2 separate regions of the Homo sapiens genome follow, and region 2 is linked to region 1. Evidence: fine-mapped expression QTL. A gene starts in region 1. The other region holds a variant in brackets. All regions are shown on one strand. Distances are from middle to middle. Region 1 holds the start of REV3L (REV3 like, DNA directed polymerase zeta catalytic subunit). Region 2 overlaps REV3L (REV3 like, DNA directed polymerase zeta catalytic subunit).

What was found. PIP is the estimated chance that this variant, and not a neighbour inherited with it, causes the effect.
Region 2: its variant is fine-mapped to the expression of REV3L in prefrontal cortex (CommonMind, PIP 0.95).

The regions. Positions count from the first base shown.
Region 1 is chr6:111,474,321-111,490,839 of GRCh38, forward strand. REV3L (REV3 like, DNA directed polymerase zeta catalytic subunit) reads right to left here and starts at 8,898. Exons shown (of 32, transcript NM_001372078.1): 1 at 8,430-8,898. The coding sequence starts at 8,568. It also overlaps TRAF3IP2-AS1. RefSeq lists enhancers at 2,832-3,724, 4,322-5,046, 7,785-7,844, 9,685-10,044, 13,700-13,799 and 1 more and silencers at 8,215-8,294, 8,355-8,424, 8,485-8,784, 8,955-9,184, 9,225-9,614.
Region 2 is chr6:111,411,828-111,428,346 of GRCh38, forward strand. It overlaps REV3L (REV3 like, DNA directed polymerase zeta catalytic subunit), which reads right to left. Exons shown (of 32, transcript NM_001372078.1): 2 at 4,456-4,645. Among named protein-coding and RNA genes, the nearest start is that of REV3L, 63 kb to the right of the region's middle. RefSeq lists a silencer at 15,566-15,766. The variant T/C (reference allele first, on the strand shown) is at 9,219.

The DNA of each region.
Region 1 (16,519 bases):
GGCCACCAGAGACACCCTCCCTGCTTCCTTGTCCTCTCATTGTAAGTGGGTTGCACCTTGTGGTAGGTGGCATGTTCCTTCGGCACCGTGAATACAAACTCCAGTAACAATTCCATGATCCCTTTCCCACAAAAGGCAGCTGTACACTGTGGCTGGCTGCTGAAGTAGATTCCAAGTAGTAAGGCACACCTCATTTAATGCACTTAAAATATCAAAAGGAGCAGTATGCTGCTTTTAACTGTTGGTTGTCACTCACCATGCTATTTGTTCACAGGAACCCCAACGCCTTCCTTCAGCCCCCATTCTACTAGGACTACCCTTCTGTGAGCCATGTAACATCAACTGAAAACTTTGAATTAGAAGATCTCTAACAATAACTAAAGTTAAAAACAGTATTGCAGTAATCATTTGTTTGTAACAACTATTATGGTCTCTTATTTTTTCCTTCTTACCAATTCCTGTAAGCAAAACATAACTTAAAAATATTAACTTTGAATAGTATTACATGCACATGATTTTAAAATACTGAAAAATTACCAAACAGTATACTTTAAAAGTTAGTCCATCTTTGTCCTCTAGGCAACCACTTCTACACACTGGAGCAATTACTGTCATCAGACTCTCCCGTATCCTCCCATGCACATTACATTCTATAGCTGCCTATATATACACACACACACACACACACACACACACACACACATATGGATTTTATTATAATAAAGAATTTTATTCTAATACATAGGCATATATAGCATATAAAAATATATATTTTAACCACACGAATGGCAGCAAACTGCACATGCAGTCATGCCTCTTGCTTTTTTTCCTCATATCTTTGACATAGCACCACAGCAGTACACATAGTATTCTCTCATTATTTTTAAAGGCTGACTAGTATTCTGTTGAATATATACACCATAATTCACCTAACTACTTCCCTACTGATATGTTTAGCATGTTTCCAATCTTTTGCAGTAACAAATAATGCTGCCACAAATATTCTTAGATATTTATTTGACATATATGCAAAATCTTCTAGAGAATAAAATCCTATAATGGAATTACTAGAACGAAATAAATCTGTGTTTTAATTTTTGAAAACCATTTTCAAACTGCTTTCTATAGAGTATGAATACTTTATAATCCCACCAGCAATGTATAAGGCTGACCATTTTCTCTTCTCACCTTTCCCGAGTTATACTATACATAACCTTTGCTCATTTGATAGGTGACAAAGAGTATGTTGTAGCTTGAATTTACATCTTTATTATATTATAAATAAAGTTGTACATTTTTTCATATGAATTCTCTTTGCTAATTTTTCTACTGGATTATTTTCTAGTTCTTTGTATTAAGAGGAACTTAGCCCTTTGTGAAGTATACAAATAAGTTTTACTAGTCTGTTTCTCTTTTAACTTTGTTTGATTTTTTCCCCTGTACAGAATTTTATTTTTATGTCCTAAAATCCAGCAACCCAGTATGCTATTAAAGGACTTCACCAATCCTGGATTACGTAAAAAATAATTACCCTACCTTTTTTGTTTCTTTGTTTCATATTTAAATCTTTAACTCCTCTGGAAGCCAACATTATTTTTCCAGATGACTAACTGGCTATCCCAACACTGTTTATTAAACAATTCTTCTTTTCCCTACTCATAAATGAAGGTGGGATCCATTTTCATATACAAGTTGAATACCCCTTATCTGAAATGCTTGGGACCAGAAGTGTTTCAGATTTTAGAATATTTGCACATACATGAGATATCCTGAGGATGGGACCAAACCTGAATGTAATTTTATATAATTTTAAATAATGTTACACATGAAACAAAGTTGTTTTGATTGTTTTTGAGACAGGGACTTGCTCTGTCACCCAGGCTGGAATGCAGTCATACAATCATGGCTCACTGCAGCCTTCACCTCCTGGGCTCAAGCGATCCTCCTGCCTCAGCCTCCCAAGTAGCTGGAACCACAAACGTGTACCACCCTGCCTGGCTAACTTTTGTATTTTTTTGTAGAGATAGCGTCTTTCCATGTTGCCCAGGCTGGTCTTGAACTCCTGGGCTGAAGCAATCCTCCCACCTTAGCCTCCCAAAGTGTTGGGATTACAGACATGAGCCACTGCATCCAGCCTGAAACGAAGTTTTGACTGCGACCCATCATGAGGTCAGGTGTGGAATTTTCTACTTGTGGCATCATGTTGGTGTTCAAAACATTTCAGATTTTGAAGGATTTCAGATTATGGAGTTTTAGATAAGGGATGCTCAACCTATATTAAGCTCTCATATATATTTAAGTTAATTCTAGTCTTTACTCTGTTTTAGTGCTGTCATGTGCCAAAACCATGTTACTTTTCAAAACATTTTAAAATTAAAACCACTTTACATACAAGTAAGAATAATACAACCAGAAATTACTGGCTTGCTTTAATTTATGAATCATTTTGCAATTTCTAAATGGAATTTATATAATTAAGTTCAATATGATCATCATGCAATCATGCATTTTGGTTGACACATATTTTGGAGACCATTACGAATCTCATGTCTCCCACTACATTTCTGGAACCATATCTAGAAAATCAATTTTTCCTTAATTTTGTACATGGTTTTTTTAAATTATAAAATCAGCACATGTTATCTGTAAAAAATCTGAAAATATAAAACATACCTTCCAGAGATAACCAACTTTTATACTTCGGTGTATTTTTTTCCACACTTTTAATAAGTGACTATTTTGTAAACTAATTTTTTCACATAATATGACAGCACTTTCCCATGTTATTACACATACTTCTACAACATGTTTTAAACACATCCTCCCAAATGAATATACCCAGTTTATGCAACCATTTGCCAATTGTTGAACACTTAGAGTTGTTCTCTGTGATGATTATCATCTATTTATTAATCCTTGCCACAAATGAGTTCCAAGAATTAATAGACGAGTTTCAAGCACTGTGGTAAGCATTAACTCTATAATGGTGAGGAAAAAGAAACACATTATCAGGATTTCTGGAGGTTACAATCTATTTGGAAAAACAGATGTTAATCTCCAACACATATGAAATTACAATGACAGCAAGTGCTATGAGGAGAGTTCATGGTGCTCTGAGAGTCTGTGATAGGGAAGCCTTCCCTGAGGAAAGATAAATCGAAGTTTAGGTGAAAGAAAAGTAAAAACATTCTCAGCAGGGGCAACGGCAGGTACAAAGCCCTCACTGTGGGAAGGAGCATGGCAAGAACAAGGGACTGAGATAAGGCCAACAAGGCTGGAACAAAAAGAGTAAGTCAAGAACATGGCTCAAGTCATGACTAGACAGAAAGGTAAGGGCCAGACTATGCAAGACCTTGTAAGACAGGCAGATGCCACCATATAAGACACAGAGTTCTGTCCATATCCTGAATGCAATGGAAAGCTACTGAAGCATATCAAACAGTAGGGTGATGTAATCAGGTTTGCATTTTTAAAAGATCCCTCTGATTACAGTGTAGGAAACAGATCAGAAGGGGACAAAGTAGATTGGGATAAACCAAGATTAGGAGGCTACTGTAGTAAACCTGACCAAAAATGCTAGTAGTTTAGGGTGGTGATGGATTATGAAAAGAAGTAGACGGATTCAAAAGACAACCAGATTTGCCAAAAGATTTATGCTCATAGATTAAAATCCCTAAAACTAGAATTACTGGGTCAAAAAAGAACACTTCAAGGATTCTAATATACATTGCCAAACTGCCCTGCAAAGAGCAGTTGTCTTCATCTGTCAATTACCTTGTAGCTGTTCCTCTATCTGAAATTTTAAGTTCCTTAAAAATTCCTTTAACATGACTAATCCATATTTCCTTCACGAAGTCTTCCCTGACTCCCCTTTTTGCCTGGATATAGAACATGTCTCCCAATGAATCCTTGCTTTGTCTTATACACATTTCTATAGTCCAGTCATACTGCATTTGACTTACGTTTACATGCCCATCATCTCTACTACATTGTGAGCTTCTGGAGAGTAAAGCTGTTCTTAAGGCACTTAAAGCTAAAACAACTTGCTACTCAGGGCTTCAAATACCTACTTTAAAAAAAGTGACCAATTTGTTTGTGATGAGTCATTACATCTCCATAGCGTTCCTGAAAATCTCTCCAATAATTGTAATCAAATAGGTGTTATATGATCTTAAAATATTTTTAAATAGCTTAGTAAAAAACAGACTATGAACAAAGCAGATTCTATTAGAGAAACTTTTGAACCTGAGTTGTTGATACACGCTAATTTTCAAAATTATTCTTATTGCAAATTTAACTCCAATTTACCAAAAAAAAAAAAAAAGGTTATTCTGGTAGTTTCTTATATTTAATTTTATAAAATATAAACAATGAGAATATATTTATAATTGGATAAGCATCTACATAAACTTATATAGCATTTCAGAATTATCAATTCCTTATGTTGAAAAGCTTGATTTCATGGCTAACAGTATCTAGAACAATCTACCAAAATATTCACTAAGCTAGAGGAAGTGGCAGAGTTCCTTAGAGTAATCTTAAAGACAAGCAGCTCCCTCTATAGTCTGTCTGGCCTACTTTGTTTAATTCCTTGCTTTGTGGACATCCCACACTCTTCTATTTACTCCTACTCTGCATCTCAGCAGGGAAGCTCTTTGAAAGGATAGTTCTGTTTAACCTGGTGCTGAGGAAACTGTGAGAGCTGTCTAAACTCAGCATGAAGTGAGTTACATCAAGCAACTAAGCAAAAGTCGAGATGTGGAAAATGGACAGCTTCCCAAGTCCACCTCAGTCAAATCCTTAAATGAAGCCTGATGATTTCATTTGTAGTGAATCCTCTGAGTGGTCACACCTATATTCAAATCTAAATGAAAAAACATTGTCCTATACTTTATTCACAACCTTTCTTCCCTCCATTAAAACAAGTTACCAAAATGTTGTTCTAAAAGAAAAAATTAACAATTTATTCTACAAATGATACTGCTCAATTTGATTATGTCAAAATAATGTTCAAGACATTTTAAAAACTAGTTAAAAAAATGGAGAGGAAATTTGTTTTTGTTTTTTAAAAAATTCCATAACTCAGATGAAGAAACTTTAAGTGATTCCCTTAGGAATCAATATCCTCAGTTGGCAAGGGATTAAATCAGTCAGGATTTACCATTCAAATCTGAATATCCCCCCCCGCCTTTTTTTTTTTTTTTTTTAAGACAGGCTCTTGCTCTGTTGCCCAGGCTGGAGTGCAGTGGCGTGATCTTGGCTCACTGCAGCCTCAACCTTCTGGGCTGAAGCGATTCTCCTGTCTCAGCTTTCCAAATAGCTAGTACTACAGGTGCACACCACCACGCCCAGCCAATTTTGTTTGTTTGTTTGTTTGTTTTGTACAGACTATGTCGCCCAGGCTGGTCTCCAACTCCTGGGTTCAAGCGATCCTCCTGCCTCTGTCTTCCAAAGTGTTGGGATTACAGGCATGAGCCACAGCACCCAGCCCTGAATATCCCTCTTTTTAAAAATACCTTTTCAAATTTCACCAACTTAAGACATGGGAGCTTTTAAACCCAAAACACTTTATTTCTTAAATTACTCAAGATACGTCCTCAAAACACAGAACAATCAAAAGTCAACTGGACTGTTTTCTAAAGCAGAAAAATGCTTTTCAGGCAATAATAGAAAAACTAAACTAGTAAAAGGGTATTAATCCAATCAGTTCAGAATTTGTAATATAATTTTGAAACGGCCACTTCATTTGAGAAAAAATATCTTTGGTTGCTATTTTTCAGGATCTCATTTGTAAAGCAAAGTCAATTTTAAAACATTTTCTCTCCAAACCAAAGTAAAGCATTAAGGACCTCCCAAAGTAATTCTTATATATGAAAAAAGTATGTTTATGCTATTTTATGTAGCATAGGTTTATCATGTGTTACACATTTTTATTACCTTATTTTACTTGTTAGTAAAGATATAAACTATAAAGATATAATACAAACCATGTTTATATCTTTGCATTATGTTTACATCTTTACTTTCAAATAAATCTGTCTTCATTAAAAATTCTAGCATTCAGAGTTTTACTAAGTCAGACTGGCCTCTCTTTTATATTAATAATTTTCAAGTTTTATTTTATTGGACTAGTTTTCCTTGGGGAGATAATTCAAAAGCAGGTAATTCTGCAGTTTTTGATTATGTTTAATTAATATTAATCTCACTGGGAGTTTCTGACGTGCTAATAAAAATGCTGGCTTGGTTTATGAAAAGTGTAAACTCTAAATGTATGCCAATGACTTCAAATTTTTTCTTGTTGAAACAAACATTTTGTTGGAAACTGTGAACTACATGGCAAATTCAATTTGATAATCCTTAACAATTTAAAATTTGACTTTCTCTGTATCAAGTTTTATGTCTTTCAATGTACATATAAAAAGTGTTACTTTTTAATTCATTTAAAATATAAATTTCAAAGTATGTACCAAAAAAAAAACCCCAATGGGGGTTTTTAGTCTTTGGTTTTTTCGTTTTTGTTTTTTTTTTTTTTTTTAAGGTGCTGGTAATCTATTGTGGGATGTCCATGAAGGATTAAATAGGAAATAGTTAATGTGTCTTTTAAAAAATATTCAGGAAAACAACAGTATATAATATTCTTTATTTTTTAAGGAACATTTCCTCACGTAATAGAATTACATTAGCTTACAGTGAAACTCATTTATTTCCACAAACGAAACTTTCCTATACAACAAAGCTTGACTATCTCTCAGGAAAACATATTTAATGACTTGTGTGGAGGAGAAAAAATTATGTGTGGAAAAGTAACTCAAACCATACAAGCTGTAATACACAGAAATGCCACAGTATATCCTATTAGCATGTCACTTTATGATTCGGAAATTTGGCTGAACAGGGCCATATCAACTTCACTATTTTATCCTTCCTCTGCATCTGAAGTGAGAACAGTGCATTACACTGAAATTCCAATTGGAAACAAAGACAGCACCACTATATTTAAAAGGGCAGAAAACCTATCTTATAGAACACTTCATCGCCTCGATTTCCCAGCCTCCAAAGTTTCAAGTGTTACACTTTCAACACGTTAAAAGCACTCAAATTCCCCATCTTTCAAGGTTCATATCAAAATCATATTCACTAGTTTAAATAGGAATATGCTACCAAATCTCACAACATTGACATTTTAACAAAGAGAATTCACATTAAAAGATAACTGCTTTAAAATGAGTGCTTGTGTTTGGGAAAGCGCTATTATCTTGGTAGTCCACAGAAACTGACTGTAGTAATAAGATGAATGGTGATGAGGGCAAGGAGCATCAAGTGGGAAATGCTATCTAAAATCCCATAGGGCAATTCATAGCTAGAGGGAAGAACAACCTTTCCTAAGATGCATTATTTCCTAGAACTCCATTATTTCATGGAAGCAGTTCAAAGCATGCAAAAAAGCAAAACCATTTTAAAACACCTAGTAAACTGGGCCTCTATCTTTTTTATATTATCATAAGCCCCAGGAGTTTTTGAGAACGTACCTTCTGTCACGGCTGTCTCCCCTTCCCATCCCTTCTTCAACATAGTTGTGTTTAAAAAATATATACCTGTACTTAAAACGCAATCCTACAGCCCAGCCTAGGAGCATTTCAAAATGTCTGTGCTGCTGAGTCTGGCTGTGGTTCCTAATAAATTCACCCCATTAAGTGTGATGTTTTAGGTTGGGCAACATAAACACGCATTTCCTACTTCCATGGATGCACATTTCCTGAAAGCACTGCACCTAAGGATGCTGCCCTGTCCCCCGACGCTCAGGCACTAAACTCTAAGGAGTCACGACCTGCACTCACAGCAGAGCCACACGGTCACCCCAGTGAGAAAGATTATCTGGCCCCAAGCGCCACTCTCTCCGGCCCACTGCATCTCCGGAACTGGCAGAGGAGAGCGAGGGTGAGAAGAGACCATGGGGAGCGACTGACAACAAGGCTGACACTTCCCCGTTTCCAGAAAGCGGCACTTGGGGGACACAAGGGATGTCCCACTAGCGACCGACCTCAGAGCAGGCCCTACGAACCCGTCCACCGATGGACATGGCGCGGCCACCTGGCCCGCCGTCCGGGGCGCCCGCGGCTTTCGCTCTCCCGGCCCGCGCCCTGGAGTGCGGCTCCCGCTCCCGGCCGCCACACGCAGTCTAAACACGCGGCGCTCGCCACCTCCCTGCCCGGGGGTGGGGGCGCCGCGCAGCGCTCGCGCGGACCCACATTTTTGCGGCTCTTGTCACGCACGAGAGAAAAGGCGAGGAGGGCGGAGGGGAGGGAAGACGCGGCAGCGATCCACGGAGACGGCCGGCGCCGGTGGCGTGTGCGCGTGTGCGCGGCGGGGAGGGCGGCCCCGGCGCCCCGCCGACTCCCGCTCCCGCCCCGCGCCCGGCGCCCGCTTACCTGCCGGGGTCGCTCCGAAGACTCGCACCACCGGCACCTTCTTGACAGGGGCCTGGGTGAGGGGGGATTGGCAGGTATCCAGCCCCTGCAGCGGGCTGGCCATGTAGTAGTCTGCAGTCACTATCCTTACTGAAAACATGTTCGCCGCCGCCGCCACTGCCTCCCTTCACTGGCGACCCGGCAGCGGCAGCAGCAGCGGCGGCGGCTCCCTCCGCAGCGGCGGCGGCGCCCCCTCCCCTTCTCGGCACGGCCCCCTCCCCTCACACAGAGGCACCTCGAGGAGCGGCGGGCGGGGCGGTGTAGGCGCTGCTGCCGCCGCCTCCTCAGGAGCACCCGGCAAGGGGCCGCAGGAGAGAAGCCCTCGAGCTTTCGTCGGTGCTGGTGCTGCCGCCACTGCCGCCACCGCCGGGAATCACACGGGCTCCTCGGTCCCAGGCTGCAGCTCTTGTTGCCATGATGATGATGTCACGGACGCAACCACTGGGGGGAGGGGAGAGGGGGGTGTGTGTGGCGAAGGGAGGCTGCGAGTAGTGCGGGGGAGGGGGCTCGGCGGGAAAAGGAGCGAGAGGGCGGGCGCCCGGGCGGGACACGGAGGGCGGGGGCCGAGAAGGGGCTTTCTCCCCCTCCCCGGGCACGCGGCGAGGGAGGCGGCCGGCGGCCGGCAGCGCCCGCGCGGGATCGATGACTCGGCTGGCGGGCACGGTCACCTGGGTGAGGGGCAGCGGAAGGGGCGGCGGAGCACCGATCTCATGGATGGGCTCCGAGGGGCTTGCGGGAGGGGGGCGCCAGTGTTCGGGGCCGTTTTGGCGGCTATGCAGGATTGGCAGGAGCTGCGATGCTCACACTTGCCTCGCCGACCGCCATTTCACATCCAGCAGAGGAGGCGGGGGCAGCCGCTGAGACGGTTTTTCACAAGGTAAGAAAATCCGCCCGCGTGAGGAGGGAGGCGAGGCGCAGATCTCGTGCCGCTGCGGCCTCGCGGGAGGGAAGGGCGGGCGGGCGGCGGAACGGGCGGGGCCGGGTGCGGACGCAGCCGGCCCTTCTCAGGTAACGCCGCGGCTCCGCGCGTGGCCCGGGGGCGGTGCGAAGGGTGGGGGCGCGCGGGCGCGGGCTTCGGCCTATAAAAGGGCCGCCCTGGCGTTCCCCCTTCCCGAACGTGCCGCGCGAGCCGCGGTGCCCCCTCCTCTTTGCTGCTGCAGTGTCTGCGCCGGGCCATTTAATGAGATTTATTCACGCACGGCTCTTCTCAGCTTTGCGAGGGGTTGGCAGATCCAGTGCACAGGGATTTCCCACTACCGTGTTTTTCTCCCGCCCCCTTCCTTCCCTCTCGTCCTAATACATCCTTCGTTGGTTTCCTCGGCCCCGCAGGCTGCGTCCCGGGCACGCGCAAGTACATGTAAGGACTTGTCAGCTGCCGGTGACCTCCCTCCTCCCTCGTCGCTCCTCCCCCAGCGGAATGTAGGATTAACAGTCTTTCCGAGAAAATTTTGGCCAAAGAAAAAGGCCTGTGAAAGTCACCGCGTTAGACGTGGCCTCCTCGTGTTTTTCACTAACACGTTATGGAAGGTTTTACTACCCGAAGGCATAAAAGCACCACCGTGGGGAAGGGCCGTTTTGAATAAACAACTTTATTCAAAAATCGAGAGGGGGTGAAGCGATGCAGTTAGGGAATTTTTGTTTTAAAGAGTAGTAACATGCAGCTGGCTTGGCTATTAAATTGGAAACAAGGGGTTCCTCTCTGACTTGGCCACTGATATTGGGCGTGACCTTGGACAAATAATTTTGTTTCTTTGGGCTCAGTTTCTACATATGTAAAACGGGAAGGTTTCTCTTAAAAACTAATCCTGAAGGGTTTCTTCTCAACAAAAAGATGCAAGCTGTAGGAGGCAGAAAGCGTGGGTTCAAGTTCGAAATTTGCCCCTGAATTAGGACCCTTGACACATTTCTAACCCATCCAAGTAGAGATCGTTCTTTTACATTTGTGTGTTATACAGGTGCATTTTAGTGGTTACCAGGTTGCCACGTATTTGAAGTGGTGTGAGAGCTACTCGTTTGGAACCGTTGTGGATTTTCAAATAGGAAAATCAAAAGGCCCAAAGAGACAGCTCACTGGTAAGAAGCTGTCTATAAATTCCCTAACATATAAATGCTATAATAAGAACTTACGCTCCGAGGGATTTGAGACTGATTACTACAGTAAATTAGCTTGTAGTTTTTAACCTCAGAGCATGATTATAAACATACGTGGCAAGATTTCTACTAATATGCTGGAAATTAGCTAATATTTTTAAGAGGCAAAATCTCTTGATCTGAAATTTTAGAAGGCTATAGAAGTGATTTTAAAATATGACTACCATGCTAAAATGTATTTTTTATAAAATAAATATTTTGTACACGCCGAATGTCAGATACACAATATCAGTGATTCTCAGTGTTCCATGACACCTAGAATTCTTTAAGTGTTGATATTTTGGCTCTTACTGAATTATATTTTGGGGGATGGGGCCTGGGAATCTGTATTGTTAGCAACACTACTTGCCACCCCGTGATTCTTAAGCAAAATAAAATTGAGAATCCTTGTACTATATTATAATCAGTGTATCCATAACTTTTAAATTATAATATTCCTAACTAGAAAATGGTAAAAGCATCAAATTAACAGATTTGCGATTTCTAGAAGAGGGTTTCTTTCCCCTTACCTCTTGAATCAACATTATTTACTTTAAGAAAAGGCAGTTGCAACCACAAGTCAAATCCTTCTAGAACTCCAAGAATGTTCACTCTTGAAGAAAAACATTTGCAGCATGAAATTAGGAATGTTGTGTTCATTGCATGTAATTTAGTTTTAAGTTGATGCTCAAATTGAAAACCTGACAATAGCCCCCTAATTAACCACTATCAAATGTGTTTTATATGTATATTCTTCCTGAAGTAAGAAAAAGTTCTGGAATTTTGAGTCAGAGAATGTGAATATTAAACCATCATTTAGCTAAGTGCTCACTTATTTTTTGGAATTTATTTCCTCATCTGTGAAATGGATAGTAATTCCTGTTTTAACTTCTCAGGGATGTTATAAGGCTCAAATGAGATAATGTATGTGAAAATATAGTAAAATGTTCATATCCAGAAGTCTGATTCATTGAGAAACAGTAAAATCACTTGGAATTGACTTATCTACATACAGTATGAGAAATGCAAAAATTGAACTCTATACTTAATATCCTTAATGCTTTTTTTTTTTTTTTTTTTGAGACAGAGTCTCACTCTGTCACCCAGGCTGGAGTCCAGTGGCACAATCTTGGCTCACTGCAACCTCCACCTCCCGGGTTCAAGTAATTCTCCTGCCTCAGCCTCCCGAGGAGCTGGGACTACAGGCATGTGCCACCATGCCTGGATAATTTTTGTATTATTAGTAGAGATGGGGTTTCACCATGTTGGCCAGGCTGGTCTCGAACTCCTAACCTCACGATCTGCCTACTTTGGCCTCCCAAAGTGCTGGGATTGCAGGTGTGAGCCACCACACCTGACTGTGCTTTCTTTTTTTTTTTAGGTGGCTATTTCTTGCCAGGAGATTTGAGATATGGTGAGAAACAAAACAGACATGGTCCCTTCCCTTATAAGGTTTATAGTCTAGCATCCTAAAAATGTATTTTAATCATATCAATTAACATTTAATCATCTCTTCTAGTTCACTGACATGTACTTAGCATGTCTGCCTTTAGTAAAAGCCTACCAAGTCTCCTTTACCAATACTGTTCAACATCTGTTAACATCTGCCTGTTAGCAGTTTATAATCTAGAACAGACAGTAGTAGCTACCATACTTTTGTGGCAGATACTATAAGATGGCTTATTCAGTATTCATCCAACCCTCTTCTTGCTTACTTTTCTGTACTTTAAAAGCTGGAAAACAAACTACAGTTCTCAGACTCCTTTGCAGCTAGATTGCTGGTGTGAGATCAATGGTGTGATCAGTAAATGTTTAACAATGGCTAGAGAAGAGGGAAGGCCCTAATTTGTAGCATTGGCCAATTCGGTTTGCTTTCTTTTTGAGGAACAGGGTCTCACGATGTTGCCCAGGCTGGTCTTGAACTGCTAGGCTCCTCCCACCTCAACCTGCCAACTAGTTGGGACTACATGGTACAAATGTGTCCTCTACCAGAGTGACTTCAGTAAATGTGGAGTTAGTTGGAAAGGATGCTGACAATCAGAAGTTGGCTTCAGTATATGACCTAGTTTCCAGCAATCAGATGTACCCATTCAGGACATGGATGTGAGAGCGAGCAACATGATGCTTCAACTGCACTCAGGGAGATAAGTATCTTCTGACAAATACCATGAAGGAGGTATCTGGTTCCTCTGGGTAGGTAGGGAGGAGTTGTGGCATCTGTTCTAGAGTCATAGGTGCTGACTGGCAGGCATTGCTGGGATGGGTTTCCACTAGAATAGCTTTGTGATGTGGGATGGGTGTTCTTTGTGGTTTGGTTTTTCTTGGATGTTGTTTCTAGCTTGGTTTATCCAAGTCTGGTTCTCTGGCCCTCTGAGAGATCTGTGAACTAAATAGTATCTTTTAATCCCTTTTTGCTTCAACCAGCCCAGTCACAGCCAGCTACATAATTTGTGGAGCCCAGAGCAAAATGAAAACGTAAGGCCTCTTGTTCCAACACAGGGGAAAATGTGCTATTATCTGTATTAAAATATAAAGCTTTTTCTTTGTTCTGTCGTCGCTCTCTCCACTTGTCATAGTGTTTTTAAATTTGCTTTTTAATGTCATTCTATGAGAAGAAAAATTAAATTTTTTAATTCTTAGGATGAATTTTACCATTCATCTTTATATTGTGTAATGCCGTTTTAAAATGCAAATATAAGAGCATTTCAATTGTATGTGGAATCACCAAAATTATACAATTCATAGCTTGTAAATGCATATGTATTTTGTGCTATCAGAGCAGTGTAAACTCTGCACAAAACAAAACTATTTTTGTTTTCCTTCTTGATATGCACACATTCTACCAACATTCTCCATCTTCTGCTTACTGATGAGTAAGGAAGGATGAAAGGAAAGGGAGTGCTGAGTTGCCCTACTTTCCCTTTCATTCTTTGTCATCATTTTTTGTGTAAATGGTTGGCTAATAGTGGTAAGTAACACATGAGTAAGGAAGGATGTGATGTAATCACTTGTGTTTCTTAAAGATGCTGTTGCCTTCTTTCTGCACCTGAAGCAAGTTCGGATTTGAATGAAAAGTGTAGCCTCTTGGAACTGTCTATGCCTCCACTAACTCAGTCATAGATGTTACATGCTTGTTTTGTATTAACTTTGTTACTCTCTTGAGTTCCTGCACCTCATAGGTCCACCAGAATCCTTTGTCATGAGGCATCATGGAGACCATATGCAAATAGAACGGCAAGGAAGAAAGGATACATACCTCTGCTTGCATATTATGCTCTGCTATACCACTGGACTTACAAAACAGATAGTCAAACATAAAAGTATTACAATTTTCAAGACAGTGACTACAGAGCATTAAACCAAGCACTGGGCCCTGTGTGACTATACTTGTCGCATGTTCATGAAGTTGATGGCTCTGAGCGCTTGGGTTTCTCAAATGGGGCTTCTGGCATTTTTGGTGAAACAGTTTTTCATTGTGCAGGACATTTAACATCCCTGGCCCCCATGCACTACATGCCACTGTAACAATAAAAAATTCCCCATGTATTTCTAAATGTCCCCAAAGAGGAGTTGCTGCTCTCCACTAAACTCCTAGAGTGACCTCCACTGTGTACAGCTATGAACCATGAGCACTACAGAGTTGAGTTAAAAAGGATTTCAAATTCTCATATCCCGGAAAGCAGAATTATGATGACTTTTTTCGTATTGTCAAATAAATAATACCACCTACATTGATGATGAAACAAATATTTGAGATAACAATTTAAAGGTGGTTAGTGGGTTCTATGTGTCACATGTAAATGGTAGTTGACTCCAGATAGATGGCAATTTCTGATAGTTTAAAAAAAAAAAGAAAAGAGCAGAGCACCACAGAAAAGCAAAGAGAACCATCTTACCTTCATTATCTTCATCAGGTAGCCCCCAGGAAAAACTAAGAAAGTTGTCATAATAAGATATGCTACTCTTATTACATTGGATTTGGAATTTAGTTTTATCATATCTATTTTTTTTTAAGGTATAGTTCTTCATTTAAGAATATTAACTGTCAGGGCCAGGCACAGTGGCTCAACTCTGTAATCACAGCACTTTGGGAGACCAATGCGGGAGGATTGCCTGAGCCCAGGAGTTCGAGACCAGGCTGGGCAACGTGGCAAAAATCCATCTCTACCAGAAATACAAAAATTAGCTGGGTGCGATGGTGCATGCCTGTAGTCCCAGCTACTTGGGGGCTGAGGTGGAAGGATAGCTTGAGCTTGGGGAGGTCAAGGCTGCAGTGAGCCTTGAGCCTCATGAGCATAGGATTCTGGTGGACCTATGAGGTGCGAGAACTCAAAAGAGTAATAAAGTTAATATAAGACAAACGTACATCTATGACTGAGTTAGTGGAGTCATAGTGTTGCCACTGTACTGCAGCCTGGGCAACAGAGTGAGACCCTGTCTCAAAAAAAAAAAAAAAATCATTTCATCAAAAGTGAATTCATTAAAAAAGTGTACCAAGAATACATTCATTGGCCAGGCACGATGGCTCACACCTGTAATCCCAGCACTTTGGGAGGCAGAGGTGGGAGGATTGCTTGAGCCCAGGAGTTTAAGACCAGCCTAGGCAACATGGTGAAACCCTGTGGGACTGAGAGGCTGCTTGGTTGAGAGGTGGGAGGATCACTTGAGCCCGAGAGGTCAAGGTTGCCGCACCACTGCACTCCAGCCTGGGTGGTAGAGCAAGATCATGTCTCAAAAAAAAAAAAAAAAAAAGAATACATTCATTAAATATATTGAGGTGAATATTCTCTAAAACAAGTATTTGGTAAATATAGCAAACTGATTCGTTGGCAAATTACCTTTTAGCAAATTGGACTGCTTTCCATCCCTATTAGGGATATTATAAGGATTAAATGAAGTATTGCCAAAAATACTTAGCACAATCTGAATACACTTTAGCTGTAATCCCCCCCGCCAACATTCATACTTCAAGTCCTGCCTATTCTTTCTCCTGAATATTCCCCATTTTTGTCCACAGAATCATTGTCCTTTTGTAGCCTTTCACTAGCTTTAGGTATACTATTGCAGTAGTCACTTGATTGGTCTCTTGGCTTATTCCCCACTAATTTTATTTTCTACTGTACTGCAAGGGTGATCTGTGTACCACATAAATTTTAAGTTATCGTCTATGTCAAATTATCATCTATTGCCATAAAAACAGTGTTTATGGCATACCAACTTCATGATTTGGCCTAGATAGATATTCGGCTTCATACCTTTTCACCTTTTCCATTTATCTTCTAGCACCTCTGAGGTATTATAGCTTCGTAAACATGCCATTCTTTTTGAAAAACTATCAAATCTCTGTGCATTTGCCTTTCTAACTGGCATAGTACATTTTCCCTTCTTGCCTCCTGGCAAAATTCTTATTTATCTTTCAAGTTTTAGCTCAAATGCCACTTCCTTGTAAAGGTTTCCCTGATTTCCTCAAACAGATTTAGGTGTTATTTCTAGCCTTCCACTTCTCTTTGTATGTGCTTCTATTATAATGCTTATATTATTGTAGTTGTTTGTTAGTCTGTCAGTTTAATAGACTGTTATCTTCTTGAAGGAGCAGACCATATCTTTTCATCTTTTATATACTAGATCCAAGTATAATGCCTAGAATATAAGTTATCAACATTTATTGAATTAAAAAAATTTAAAAATCTGTTTACAACTCTCTCTACTGCCTGCCCAACACCCCTCCGTTACATATCAGTAAGCTAAGGTCCAAAGAAATAAAGCTGTTTAGTGGGAACTCATGCCTCCAAACTCTAGATTTATTACTTTTACTCCTATACTTAGAGAATCTTCTGAGCTGCGGCTATGTAAGTAGTCATTTCTATGGTAAGAAAGACTGTCTTGTCACTGTTTTTTCATTCATCTTTAAGGAGAAGGTA
Region 2 (16,519 bases), 62 kb before region 1:
GACAAAAAGGAAGAACAAACCATCCACCCCTTAATCTCAAACATCAAGACTCTTTAAGTGGCTTTTTGTTTTCTTTACTCCACATATAAGAAAACATATTTTTGTTTGCTTTACTCCACATATGAGAGAAACAGACCTTTCAGCCGCCTTCTTCTGGCTCCCATTTTTTTGTTAAAAACTGAAGTTCTTCTTCAACAAAGTCCTTTACTTAACAACACTTACATTACTTTCCTTATTCAGCTGTTTATTATTATTTTATAAGTTCAATAAGCAGAGACAATGTACCTATTATATGTACACACAGCATGTATTTCAGTAGCTGATATGAATAAACCTGTAACACACAACCATATCAAGTGCATCCTGTGAAAAAACTGTGTAGACAGGAACTTAAGAGACTGAAAAAGACCATGGACTTACTTAAGCAACATAATCATGTTATGGCTGAGTTTTTTCTCGGGGTATCAGCTGGAATGAGGAAAGGGGGAAGCAAAAGGCTATATAACAGGAAGAGAAATCCTCGGTGCAAGATGAAATAAGCTGAACTCTCACATCATTTCAGGAGGATCTGAAACTACACTACAACCTCTGATATACAGAACACTATTTTCAAGGATGATGTAATTAGAAACAATACATAAACAGGCGTAAATTTGTGAATGAAATAAAAGGCTTTGTATTGGCTGAAAAGTGGTCTGTTAATACACGGTTAAATCTTTAGGTGGATAAACCCAATCACTCTTTATTTAAAAACATTGTTCCCTTATGACAGGCAGCAGATAATAGAATTTACTCTCATAGGACATCACCTCTCTGTGATGTCTAATAGTGTAGTGGACATCAAATAAAGGACTAATTTGGTAGCAGAGACATTATTTTGGGTATAATTTTTTAGTTGTTTTAAGCCATCTGTATTATTGTTATAAAGTAATTTCTGTTAAAAAAAAAAAAAAACAACTATTTACCAAGGTCTAAAGGGTTCCTCATCTCATCCTTGCCTCTCACTCCAATCTCAAGTCATACCATTCTTCCTTCTCCTCCAACCACTCTAAACATTTCAGACCCTCTAACTCGATCCCTCAAGTGGAAAGCTCCGCTCTGGACTTTTGCATGGCTTGTTTAATCTTCATTCAGAACTCTGCTTAATTTACCTTCTCAGAAAAGTCTCACCTGACCATCCCTCCCTCTTACTCTTCACCCTTTTCTTAACTTTTTATAATACCACTTCCCGTCTAGTTTGCTGCTGTATACCCTATTTTGTTGCCATGAAGAATTGGTTAAAGAAAGACATATTACATAAATGATATCATTCTCTCTCATTGGCAAATTCAACCTTAACTGTAGCCCTTTCCTGCTATGGTATTTTTCATATATACAAAGGTAGTTGTCTGGAAACATGGGTTATCTTCAGCCAGATGAATGGTTTTGCCAAAAGAATTCCTCATCAGGGAGACTCTTTGGGGGAAAAAAGTAGAATGGAGGAGTATGAAAGCAGATGTTTTCATGTTTAAAAAATTATATCTCGTAATTAGTTTTTTAAGTATATCAATAGGAAGGAAAATGAGTGTGGATAGCGAAAAATCTCACCTAATTAATTTTGATGGATTGAGAATCTCTTTATAGAAGATTCTCTAAAATCATGAGTGAGAAGGAATCCCAGAAATTAGCCCAAGGTCATGATCCTATCTCTTAACTCAGCCTCAGGATAGTGATAGTCTAAAAAGAATAGAGTTAAACCTCATGTAAATGTTAATTTGGTAGCTAGATGCAACTTTATGTAACTTAAGTAGGAAAAATTGAAGGAGTAAAGGAATTAGAGAAGGTAGAATGAATGGGAAGGAAAAAGGGGATCTAGGGAAGAAAATGACCAAAAAATTAGAAGAAAAAAGAAAACTGCAATGAAAAATTAGAGTGAGCAGCTCATCTGTTGCCCCATGTATCCAGATCTGTAACTCAACTACTCTCAAAAATGTGGCAATGTCTTTAACAAATACAAAAATACAGGAAGATAAGTGACTATGTATTTCACTGGGCTGTTTGGAGACTTAACTTTGAAATGAGGATATATATAGGAAAGTTATTAGAAACTATCAAGAATAAACAAAACTAAAAGATAAAGTAGATAATTATCCCTAACATAATTGCTCCTGTTATAGGATGAGTGTAAACTTTCACCTCATTCATTTATCCAACCAAACAGTTATTGAGTCATCTCATACATGCTAGTGCACTAGCATGCAGTTTACATGCTAGTGGAAGAAACACATAAAAATTAAGTAAATAAATAAAAATTAAAATACCTGCAAACTGTATTAAGTGCTAAAGAAAACAAATAATGGGCTGAGATACAGAATAATAAAAACAGTAATAATAATAATGCCCTACTTAAAATACCTTATTTTACGTGGGATAGTCAAAGAAAACTTCTCTGAAGAGGTCAATGATCTGGAGGATTGGGGAAGGGTAGAACACTCAAGGAAAGAAAATTGTACATACAAAGAACTTAGGTGAGAAACAACTTGGATAGCAGAGGAACTGAGAGAAAGTCACTGTTTCTGAATGGAATACAGAAAGCAGAGTTTCAGAGGTAGATGGGGTGAGGTCACATAGGTTATGGCTAGAAGTTTAAATTGTATTCTATTAACAATATGAAGCCACTCAAGAATTTTTAAATGATTTTAAATTTACAGTATAAGAGTACTTCTGCTGCTCTGGAATGAGATAAAAATAGAAGGAAATTCAATTAAAATGATACTATCATGGTCCAGAGGAAAGCCTAGATTAAGGTGGAAGCAGAGATTTAAGGTCTCCACTTGGATTTCATATGGACATAAAACAACTCAAATGTTCCTGTATGAGCTCCAGATCTTTCCTGTCAGTTGACTCTACCTCTACCTTCCGTCTTCCTAGCAGAACACCCTTAAACTTTTGCAGTCAACCTTGATTCCTCTCTCACAATCCTTACCCAAACACAAAGCAAAGCTAATACATTAACTCAACCTTCAGAATAGATCCAGAAGCTGATGATTACTTCCCTGCTACCACCCTAGTTCAAGCCACACTATTTTCTTTTTTGTTTTAATTTTAATTCCTTGGTCTTTTCTACCTTAATATCAAGCCACCATATTTTCTTACCCAGATTAATGTCCTAATTCTCTCCCTGCTCTTATTCTCGTCCCCCTACAATCTATTATTAATACAGTTGCTTAAGTAATCCTTTCCAGTTTAAGCCAGATCTTGGCTGCTCAAAATCATGTAATAACTTACAGTAAAAGTCAAAGTCCTTACATTAGCCTACTGAGTGATTAACAAACTTAAGCATGCATAAGAATCATCAGAAAGGCTTTATTAAAACACAAATTGCTGGGCCCCAAGAATGTAGTTCTACCAAGTTCCCAGGTGTGTCAGTCCCAGTCCTCCAAGAAGTAAATGCCAAATGTGAGAGAAAATGAGAAGGCAGCCAGAAGAAGCCGGCATAGCCACCAGACCTAGATACCAGTCTCATCTCAAGTGGACAGAGGGATGTTTTACAGATCTGCTTTAGTATCTTTGCCATGCTCAGTCATAGGGTAAGAGTAGCCTATGGAAAGCAGCTCATGTGGAGTGACAGACTGGAATTGAGTGTATAGTAGCTGGGGCCATTCACTCATTCTCTGTGTATTTGGAGATCTGAGAGGTATATTCTCATGGCTGTAAAACTAGGTAAAGCTAATGATAGTAGGTGATACTAGGAAACCAAAGTATGGAAACCACACTTTGAGAATCATTGGTCCTCACAGTCTCTACCCTCTCATCTCTCTCTTATCTCATTTAGTCCAACTCTCCTTTACTCTTCCACTCTAGTCACCTGGCTTCCATGCTGTTCCTACTCCCTTACCTCCTTCAGGTCTTTGCTCAGATGTTGTTACTTTGTCAATGACACATTCCCTGATTACTCTAAAATTGTCACTAGTCTACTTCCTTACCCCACACTACTATTCCTTCTTATCCTGCTTGTATAGATTCTTTCCTTCCACACGACTAATTATCATATAGCAAATAAATTAATTTAATGTTGTATTTATTGGTTATTATCTGTTTCCCGTAGTAGAATGTAACTTCCACATGGGCAGGGCTCTTTGTTTTGTCCAGCAGTATATCCCAAACGCCTAGAACAGTGCTTAGCACATAAAAAGTATTTAAGAAATATTTGCTGAATAAATTACTATATGAATTACTAATGAATTTCTATAGTTACAGGAAGCAGAGAAATGGGAAAGGAAACAACAAAAATCACTGTTGACTCTCTACCTTTCATTGCCATAAAAATTCATGTTAAAAAGTTACAGCAAGGAATTCACTACAGTTCCATTAGACTAGAAGTAAAAGAAATAGAGTTTATCAACTGAGTATGTTTTCCTCTAAATAGAATAGCAACATAAACAGAAATTATAAAATATATTATCATATACTTACATTCCTGATACTAATGACACTTTGAACACATGCTGAGCAGTGGAAGATGGATTGCCTAAAGCCACATTAAGTGCTCTGTCGATACTGAATGCCATCTGAGAAAGATAGCTTTCTGGCTGCTGTCCATAACCATCGTATGGCACATAGAGGTAAGGAAAGATGCCATGTAGATGAAGACATGTCTTCTGACCTAAAATGTAACACATTATAAAGTTTAGTTTCCAGACACAGTTTAACAATACAAAACTCAGAATGAAACTCATTTAAATGTTCTAATGGCAACACAGCTTATCTAAGGGAAGAGTTGAAAAAAATTAACCCATAGTTCAAAGTAACCAGTATTAACTACATTTTACAACAGAACATTTGGAAACATTGTGTAAACACAAGCATTGTATAACAGTATGACTTAAACAGTAGTTTTGATGAAAGTATTTTCACTATTTAACCCTCATAATCCAACTAGTCTTGTGTACTTCACTGAATCATCTATAAATACCAGTGTTATGAAGGTTATAAGCACAGTGTTATGAAGGTTACAAAAATTCACAAAAAGTTTACTAAATAAATCAATGAATGCCTGTCTTGGCATTAATGTTTTCAAACAAGAGCCTTCCCTAAAAGAGAGGCAGCTCTGGGAGAAAGGGGAATGTAAAAGCAGTTCCAGTGTGCAGAATTTTGCTATTGCAGTGGGAAGGAGGGTAAAAATGAAATTTTGCCATTAAAAGGAAAAAAAAAAAGACAAAACCAAATCAAAACAAAATCTCTACAGATCAATTATCTATAATGGATTTCAGGGTATCTAAATTTTATATTTGGTGGTATGGAACAAGGGGAGACAAAAGGCCAACATGCACACTTCTCAGAAAACCAATATATCAGTCAAGGTGCAGAAGGGGTAAATGGTGCTGACTTGCCAACAGACAATCCAGCACAGCCATGATAAAGAAAGTAATTTGAGTGAGAACCCACAAAAGAAATGCCACAGAAACGATAATCTGTCCATGACAAGATTAAGTAACAACAATGGCAACAAAAAGCAGATGCACCATTGCTCTCATGAATCTGGCAGGGCTGTATGGAAGTGGTTACTGTCCTCAGAGCATTGTCCCTAGTTCCCCTTGGGTATGTGCCATTTGTCTAATCCAAACAGAGAGGAGAACAGCAGTGATGGAAGAACACATCCATTTTTCTCATGCTGTCACCCGCTCTCACTGTGCTGTTCCTGCCAACACAAGCCTCAGGCTTCTTCCCCACCCCTTATCCCTCCTCACTCTGCTTCACTGGGCCTTTTCTTTTGGTAGGAATGTAAATATTTGTTTGATCACTATTTCCCATTTATGATTTAGAATGATTTATATAAAATATATAGAAAGTAGTTCTACACTGTGTTGATATCTTAATGTTTACATTTCTTATAAAGAATAACATTAGCTTCTCTTATTTTTAAGGTACACTTACGACAGAAAAATAAATCTGGAACAGTTATTACATAAAGCAGAGCAAATTTAGAAAGATCAGTCACATAATGAAACAAGATCTGATTCTCCGAACTGTAATATTCTGATTTGAACTACCAACTGTCGTGCTTTTGAAAAATTACAAATTGTGTTGCTGTTATACAAATTTCAGTTTCCAGTTTGGCTATTTCATTTCTAAATACAACATGGTATTAATTCCTAAATTTCATAGTTTTTCAATTCTTCAAATAGAGAACATTCAAACTATATTAATGAGTCTTAATAGATTTAATCAATTTACTGATGACTTACTTGAATGCTTTTTAAATATCTCATGAATAAATGTTATAACCATTACCCTTCTGGACAAAAACCACAATTTGACTAAGAGTAACTGGTATGCTAAACTACAGGTTGAGGGAGGTGGGAAGACAGTGAATTATTTCCTCTTAAGTTGACAAATGCAAGACCAGTGATTACAGAATTACTAGTGCAATGCCATATTTTACAAGCAATACTGTAAATTCCTAAGGTATTTGTTTTATAGTCAATATATCTCAATAATGGAATTTTGGGTAAATTTTACAAGAAACAATTACAAAATTGGACTGTATTAATAGTTTCTTTATGGTCAGAGTGTTCACAAAGTGTCTTAAAAATAATTTTATATCCACTTTTCACATCTCCTGTGAAGTAGGGACCAGAAGAATTACCTTTCTATTTATAGGCTTCAGAACTACAACAATTTTGGGATGTACAATTTAGGAAAAAGGAAGAAATGATTTACTCAGCAGGTAATAGGGTAAGTGCTTTACCTATGTATTTCTAATTAGGATAATCTTGCAGTATTGATGGAGGTTAACGTTCCCAAAGTCACATAACTATTAAGCAATAGAATCCAGCTCAACAAAACCTAAAACCAATACTCTTTCCATTTAACCATGCTGGTTCAATGTTTTTAAAAAGTCAATGTTGGCTTCCTTAATTCCTCAGTTTTTATTTTTTATTATAATTGCCTGTTTCCTTATCTAACTTTCCCATTTCATGGCAAAAACTCTTAGGGAGGTGTTATTGTGTTCAAATGAACACTATGTCCCCAGAACTCAACAAAAAACACATGGTATGTGCTTAACAAACATTTATTAAATGAATTAAAGAACCCACAACAAAACAGAATAACTGCTTAAGGACAAAGGAATGATGTGAAAGCCTTTGAATATCTGAAGAAACACATCCACGAAAAAAGAGGGACTCTGATACAATTAATGTAACTACCATCAGGGTTAGAGGAGGACATGGGTGTGTGGGGTTGAGAAGGATCCCCAACATATTGCACTTTCCTACCCTGAATGACCTGAAGTGCCATCCAAATCTGTAGTCACTCTATCAACACAGACGTACCTCTCTCTCCAGTGCTCCTGCAGCTAGAGATGGCTCAGTGCCTTACTCATCACCCTTCCTCAAGAACAACCTCCTGAAGAACAACCACAACACAAGGAATTCTTGGCATAGCACTAACAGCTCTAATATAGAATAAGAATGATATAAGAGAAAATGAAAGAAACAGGATAAAATAAAAAACTCAAAAGTTAAATAAGGAAAGAGAAATGTGTAAAAATGAACACGAGAGTCAACTGCTTTTTGGAAATAGTATGTCTTTTATTACCATAAAATTTGTAGTTCTGTAATTTGCTTTATCTTGACAAGATACAGACCACTTCTATTTATTTCCCTCCGCTAGCTCTACCTCACACAAATGTGTGGAGATACAGAGCTGTAAAGTCTTTAGAGATAAACCAGTCTACTACAACTCCCGTTAGTTAGGATTAGGTTAAATTGTGAGAAAATGCCCCCAAATCAGTGGATTTAGCATTAAAATTAGTGGCTTCTCTCCTAAAAGAAGTCCAGAGGTAGGTAGCTGGTACTAGAAACCCAGCTTTTTTCAACATCTAGTTAGTGGTCTAATTAAGAACTTGTGACTTCAGTCCAGGCGCTTTTCCACTATACTTCTAGAAGTTCCACATACAGGATGCTTTCAAGAATGTTTTTATAAAATTAGTGAAAGTTATGGTATTTTGAAACCTTCTACTAAATGATTTTGGATTCTCTTTTTTTTTTTTGAGATGGAGTCTCGCTCTGTCACCCAGGCTGGAGTGCAGTGTTGCGATCTCGGCTTGCTGCAAGCTCCACCTCCCGGGCTCACGCCGTTCTCCTGCCTCAGCCTCCGGAGTAGCTGGGACTACAGGTGCCTGCCACCATGCCCGGCTAATTTTTTGTATTTTTTAGTAGAGACGGGGTTTCACCGTGTTAATCAGGATGGTCTCGATCTCCTGACCTCATGATCCACCTGCCTCGGCCTTCCAAAGTGCTGGGATTACAGGCGTGAGCCACCGCGCCCGGCCATTTTGGATTCTTAAAGGAGTCAGGGTATTAGGTATTTCTAGGTAACATATAGATTTAAGGAAAGAAAATATCCCTACCCCTTCAACTCTATTAACGTAAACTGATACATAAAAATTGTACATATATATGGTATACAACATGAAACTTTGATATGTATACACCATGAAATGATTAAGTCGAGCTAACATATCCATCACTTCACATACTTATTATTTTGTGGTAAGAGCATTTAAAATCTAATCTCTTAGCGATTTTCAAGTATATAATACATTATCAACTACAGTCACCATGCAGTACAACTGATGTCCAGAACTTATTCATCATGTCTAGTTGAAACTTCATACTCTTTAAACAACAACTCCCCTTCCCCTCCTCTGAAGGTTCCCTCTTACTATCATGGCAAACTGAAGTTAGACAACAAGTCCAAGAGAAATAAGATCGTCTGTGGCTGAACAAGCCCATGTACACAGGTTTCAAAAATTTCAGAGTTTGAATTTTCCAATTTGATTGATGTTCCCTAATTCAGAAGCTGCAAAAGTTATTTTAAAAAGCGCCACCAAAACTTGACACCATGGCAAAACTCTGTGGAGCTGGCTACTTCCCATTGTGTGTAAGTACATAACAAAAGGCAGATGCCTCTTCAACAAGGAGTATGTGGGTGCTCTGAATTTCATCTTTCACGGAACCCAGAATTATACTAAACATTAAGTCCTTGGCTGGGCATGGTGGCTCACGCCTGTAATCCCAGCACTTTGGGGGCTGAGGCAGGTAGATCACGAGGTCAGGAGATCAAGACCATCCTGGCCAACATGGTGAAACCCCTCTCCACTAAAAACACAAAAAAATTAGCCAGGTGCCTGTAGTCCCAGACACTCGGGAGGCTGAGGCAGGAGAATGGCG[T/C]GAACCCGGGAGGCGGAGGTTGCAGTGAGCCAAGATCGCGCCAATGCACTCCAGCCTGGGAGACAGAGCGAGACTCCATCTCAAAAAAAACAAAAACAAAACAAAACATTAAGTCCTTTATATCCCAACATTTCTTATTGTCATTTTTCAACATTTTATTCTGCAATTTAGGTGTCTTGATTTGGTCTCTAAATTGCCCATCTAAAATCTTGTTAGCCTATTTGTAGTAAAATTACTTGGGGTATTTTTGTAGATTCAGTTTCGATAAACACAAAGACTAAATGTACCATTCCTCTAATTTGGGGGTCTGAAAACTTTTTCTGGAAGGTGACAGTAAATATTTTAGGCTTTATGGGACATGCTGTATCTGACACAATTACATAACTCTGCTGTTGTAGCCTGGAAGCAGCTGTATGCAATACTTAAGTGAACGGGCATGACCGTGTTACAATAAAACTTCATTTACAAAAACACGCAACATGAGGGATTTGGCCCATGGATAGTAGTTTGCCAATCTCTGCTCTAATTAATTAGACTTCTTTCTCCATCATCATCTGGAATAGAAAAGTTTTTTTTTTTTTAAAGCTGATGGGTAATCAAAATCAAAATAGTGATAGCCTAAGAGTATCTTAGGAGAATAAGAAATACTCATTGTGTAATTTGCATATCCCATCTCCCAAATCTCAAATTCAATCTAAACAAGGTTTTAAACAAACCTCGACAGAGCTATAAAACAGAAAAACTTGGTATGTGAGCAAGAACATTTACGTTTACAAAAATTTTCATATTTTCTTCTTCCTGGAACATCTCAAGTTTTATATCACTATCATTAACTCCATCTGTTTCCTTCCAGTCTTTCTTTGCTTCTGTCTTTCTAAATTTTACTCCATCTTTCTTTTCCCATCTCCACAAAACCACAAAACGAACTAAACAAAACTCAGTCACAGAAAGTGTTAAATTATCTATTCTCATGGAAAAAGAAAAGTTGTAAGGATGTACTCTTAGCCTTGGAAATTAGATTTTCAGAATTTATCTTACAGAAAAACTTAAAAATGTACACGAAGATTCAGATACTAAGATGTGAGGTATGACTAACAATAGTGAAAAAAATGAAGATAATCTAAATTTCCAAAAATAGGGAAATAAGTAAAATTATGTTATATCTGTATAATAGCTCTGTGGCTCTGTAGCAAATCCTGCTTCCTGCCTGATTTTCTAAATAAAGTTTTATAAGAATACACCACAGCCATTTAGAATGGTCTATGGCTGCTTATGCTATAGACAGAGTTGAGCAGTTGCAATAGACACCCTACAACCCTCAAAACCTAAAATATGTGCTTTCTTGTTCTTTATAGAAAAAGTTTGCTAACCTCAGCAACAGAAGATGTTTAAGTGTATTTCCTAGTATAAGAAAATGTTTATGATGTCTTTATAGTCAGATGAAAATCAGTTATAAAATAACATAGTACATGAGACCAGGTGATGAGTGATTCTTTTATATATATATGGGTGATTCTTTTATATATATATACACATATATATATATATACACATATATATATATATACACATATATATATATATACACATATATATATATATACATATATATATATACATATATATATATATACGTATATATATATATATATATATTTCCCCCCACTAAATATACAACTTGTGTAAACAAAAGGGAGGAAGAAAGAATTTACCTACTTTTAAATAACCCAGAAACTTAAAAGGCAAAACAAAGCATAATATATAACAGTTTCCTTTCATTTTCTCCTTTTATTTGTAAATAATACTTTGGAGTTTCAAATTTATTTATGCCATTTTATTTCTTCAAATAAAATATACAGAACTTTATCTAGAATCATTGGCTTTAAATGATTAATCCCAAATTACTAAGAGAAACTATATCGCTGAAATACCAGATGTTTCAAAAGTCTATTTTATTCATACATTTGTCTAATGTGTCTTTGTATATACAGTGCAGGGTATAGTTGGTTCCTTTATTCATAAATGTAGTCATAATTTCTCTACTCAAGTAATTTGTGGAGACCCAATGTTTGGTGCTAAACCATAGGCTGCTTATAACACAGCCACTAACTTCATGACTATAAAGCCACTAACTTTATAGTCTACTTGGAGAAAATGATGAATAAATAGGCAATTACAGTATGGTATGACAGGTGCTCAGAAGCACAAAATCCTATGGCTATATCCACAAGTATCTAACTCAGACTTGTGAGAATCTAGGAAGGCTTACCAGAGGAAGTGACATTTGAGCTGATATCTGAACTATGAATCAGATTTAGCCAAGCAAATGAGGAAGAATGTTTTCAGTATGTACAGAAACCTGACAGCAACAGAAACATGGCATCTGGGAACAGGAAAAGTGTAGGTGGGATGAAACAAGGAGTGCAGTGGAGAGAAAAGAAAAAGAGTATGAGAAGGAGAGAAAGAAAAAGAGTATGAGAGAGAGAAAAACAGTGTGTGTGTGTGTGAGAGAAAGTCTGTGTTTTTGTGTGTGTGCGCACATGCATGTACTAATGACCTGTACAGATTCGCATTTTATAAAGTTCCCTGTGGACACATTGTGGGGACACTAGCAACAGAACTACAGAAAGGAAAATCTGTTTAGGAGGCTGCTGGAGGAATTCAGTCGAGATGTCAGTAGAGGTGGAGAAAAGGTCAAGGATTTAGGGAGTAGAATCAAGAGGCTATGGTAACTGGAATTTGAGAGTAGGATAAGGCAGAAGGAATCAAAGATGACTCTTATTTTTGGCTTAGGCAACTGGACGGATGATAATGTCACTCAAAGAAAACTGTAAAAGAGGGGCGGGTTGACTTCTGTTTTGCATTTATACAATTTTACATGTCTATAGAATTTCTAAATGGATATTTAAATGAAACACATACAGATATGGAGCTTAAGAAAGAGATCTGAGCTAGAGAAGAAGACAGATTTGCCAGTATGAGCAACAATTGGGTAAGATTTCTCAGGGAAAATATCCAATACCCAATACAAGAGAAGGGACCTAGGCAAGAATCCTGAGCCGATATTTAAGAGAGGCACTAAATATTTTGATTTATGTGAAATGTGACAGACAGAGCCCTGAGAGGGCTACCAGGCAAGAAAGGGAAGCTAATAGTGAAAATTTGATAATATAAACATATTAGCCATGGAACCAGTGTTCCAAGGATCCAGTGGAAATATAAGAGATAGGCAAGTAACGAGAGGCTGGATCAGAGATTGGTGGCAGGATGTAGATAAAAGTATATAGGACTGAAAAGAGGCATTTACAAAATTGCTGAGTAAGGACCTTTCAATATCTGTTCCTCCATAAAAGCAACAAGAACACTGGCAAAAACTGTCAAAAGCAACTTTTTCAGAACTCTGGAAATTAAAGGTTTGCAACAATTCAAGGCGTATTTATTCAAGAACACCAGATGAATGCTAAAACAGCAAGCTTTGTGGCATTTTAACTTGTTCTAATCTGATCTCTCCCTCTGCAGCTTCAAAACAGTCTTGAAAATCAAAGCCTTGCATCCATAGCAGCTGTAAAAACCAGCAGCCAGGCAGCCACTGGAGGAGCCGGAACCCATTTGGAGCTCCTCCAAAGCCCTACCCTCAGAAAACTGCCACTATTGGACTTGTCTGGCAGCTTGCTGAACAACACTCCATTCCCAGCACTTGCCTTTATTTGATTTGAAGAAGGGCTCACACTATGTGAAGAGCCCTATATGCGGCAGGGTCTTTGTGGAAAACAATCAACAGCAATTATTTAATTGCTGTAGCTGCCTGGAGAAATTTTACCAGTTGGGTCTAACAAGAGGCTGACCAAAAAATTCAAAAGTACAAACAGGAATGAAATGTCCACCGGGGGCTTGGAAAAGCTTTGATACAGTTAAGGGAATTTAGAAGGCCATAAGCATGTGTAGGGCTATGTACATGCCCAGGAAAGATCTAAGAAGACTAATATTTTGCCTCTGGTTGATCTTGAGGCTCTGCCCCAACATACTCACAGAGCCCCTCAGCAAAAGCTGAGAAAAGAGGCATTTAAAGAAATCTCTGGTCAACCATTAACTGACCACTATGCTAGCTGAGCAGAGATTTCAAATAGAGACTGCCGGGCGCGGTGGCTCATGCCTGTAATCCCAGCGTTTTGGGAGGCCGAGGCGGGCAGATTACGAGGTCAGGAGATCAAGACCATCCTGGCGAACATGGAAACCCCGTCTCTACTAAAAATACAAAAAAAAATTAGCCGGGTGTGGTGGCGGGCACCTGTAGTCCCAGCTCCTCGGGAGGCTGAGGCAGAAGAATGGCACGAACCCGGCAGGCGGAGCTTGCAGTGAGCGGAGATTGCGCCACTGCACTCCAGCCTGGGCGACAGAGTGGGACTCCATCTCAAAAAAGAAAAAAGAATAGAGACTATACAAAATAAGCCCATGAAAATCACTGAAGAAATAAACTGCAGCAACAACAAAAATAAACTGGGTGGGTAGAGAGGAATCTAACTTGAGAACTGCTACATAATTTAAAATGTCTGGTTTTCAACAAAAATAAAATTATAAAACACACAAACAGGCAAATATGGCACCATATATATATATATATGCACACATATATATAAAAGCAGACAACAGAAACTGTTCATGAAGAAGCCAAGGTGTTGGACTTACTGGACAAAGATTTTAAGCCAGCTATTTCAAAAAACTAAAAGAAACATGTCAAGAGAGTTAAAGGAGAGTATGAGACCAACATCTTACCAAATAGAGAATATCAATGAAGAGAGAGAAATTATAAAAAAAGAACCAAATAGAAATTCCAGAATTGAAAAGTTCAATAACTAAAATGAAAAATTTACAAGAGGGGGTATGATACTATGATATAAGAAGAAATATATATTTGGTCTTTGTCCCTCTTCCTGGTACACAGCTCCTAAAACGTTTGGATTCTTTTAAGTGTTAAGTGTTTACATGTGTACCAATGAGATGACTGGTAGCTGGGGGCTCCTGGATAGCCTCAGGTAGGGCAGAAGTGCAGGGAGCCTAGGGACTCCATTTGTGGCTGGTGTCTGAAGTGAGCAGTACTATCGGACAGAACCCTTACCCTGTAGGGTATACATTAGTAGTAGTTAGTGTCAGAATTGAATTCAATTGTAGAACACCCACAGTTGATGTCAGAAAACCGAGAATTTGTTACTGTAAAACTGATGCACAGGATGTCTTTTTCAAATTGGGTGGCCTCTAAGAAGGCTTTCAACTGAGTCTAGCTGAAAATTTGATGGATTTAAATCTTACTTTCTCCTTATAAACTATTTTCTTTCTCCTTATAAACAATGAAGATATGTATAATGTCCTCACATCTCCCCTTTATGGAACGGAACTAGAAGGGAATCAATTAACCCATTTATGCCAGAGGTTGCAATTTTTTGTGTGTGAAAAATCAGACTTTGGTGATGACCCTGAGCAGTAGGATATAAATAACTCCCACAAGCTTAGCAGCCCAATAATGGAACACTAGGCATAAATGGGTTAAGGGCCAACTTCCAAACTGAACAACAGTAGTTTGATGATTAATATGATTCTTTTATGATTAATATGTCAGAAATCTGATGAAATGTTGTATCCAAAGTTCATAAGCAATTTAATCTGCAATTATTGTTATAGAAAGTAAATCAACAATTCCCTTGATTTTCAATAACTATGAAACTATATGGGTACTGCTCAAAGGCACACGCCATGGTACAACTATTTCTAAAAAGCTCAGTCTTAAAAAACAAAGCTTCTAACAGTAGTTTCAAGCACAAATCTCCAAGAAAATGTGCACCTTTCAGACTAAACGTCATAAAAATAATTAGTGTTATTAACCTTAGTGAAAAATAAAATTCTGGCTTGTAAAACAAACACTTTTTAGTTTCAGATAATTTAGCCAGAATGGTCACACACATTAATTTTTGTGGTATTTTAATTGAAAGGTAAATAAACCAAAGTCTCAAAAAAAAATTCTGATTATGACATGAAAATTCATCTCAATTTAAAGCAATATCAAAAGTTAATCAAAACAAACTTACTGTCTGGTCAAATTTGTACATAAATACCTAAATGCTCCTTCAAATGCAAATAAATAAAATATTATTGGTAATTAACATTATATGCAAGTCTAGTAAATTATTCAACCATATTTTATGGTAGCTGAATACTAAAGGACCTTAAGCTTTTACCTGTCTAAAAGAAAGTTGAAAAGACAATGCACAGAATGAAAAAAAAGTTGTGAATCATATATTTCATAAGGGACTTGTATCTAGAACAAACAACTCTTTCAACTCAATAATAAAAAGACAATAAAATTTTAAAATGGACAGAGACTTCTGGTTGTAAAACGGTGGTACAGAAGTAACCTGGCTTCACTCACTGCCACAGGAAACCAAAACCACAAATACAGTGCTGACACGATCATGAGCAATATCCCGAACTCAAATATGAGGAGACAGTTCCCAAGGCCACAAAGAAGTGAAAAAACTCTGAGCAAAAGAAAGCAAATTAGACTTTCATAATCACAGTGCCCCTCCCCTCAATCTGTCCAGCACCAAGCATGCAGAAAACTTTCCCAACTCAGAGTTGCTACACTGGAAAAAGTATAACTGAGGTGGACAACTGGCTTCTCCACCATCTTGGGTTTGTTGGCAAGAGACCTATCCCTGTCCTAATAACTGGGAGCAGTGGAAATACCTAAGGGAGAAATAATCCCTGAAAACCACCAGAAATAAAGAGAAGAGGTCGGAGGTGGGACTACCATCCCTAGTCCTGGAAACTCTGCTATGTAACTCAGCCAAAAGAGATGCCAAGTTGGAGTGGCTGTTCAGCAGCACCACACTGTTAAGAGGTTCATTTCACAGGTTCATTGGACATGAACCTCTACCCAGAGGTTAGGTGCTGAAAAGGAGGCAGCAACCTAGCAGATTTAAGAAAAAAAAAAAAAGAAAGAAAATTAACAGGTAAACTTCAAAGAATCTCTAAGCAAGCATATTCGATAAAAACCAAAACAAGCCAGATAGAGAAGACTAGAATAAATAACTAATCCTTGAATGCAAAGACACAGATGTATATCCACAACAAACAACAGAAAACAGGGAACCATGACCTCAAACAGACAAAGCAAGGAACCAGTGACTGACCCTAAGAAGACAGTGACATGAGCTTTCTGATCAAGAATTCAAAATACCAGGTATAAGGAAATTCAGTAACTTTTACAAGGCAAAGCAGAAAAGTAATTAAGAAATTTATTAGAGAAA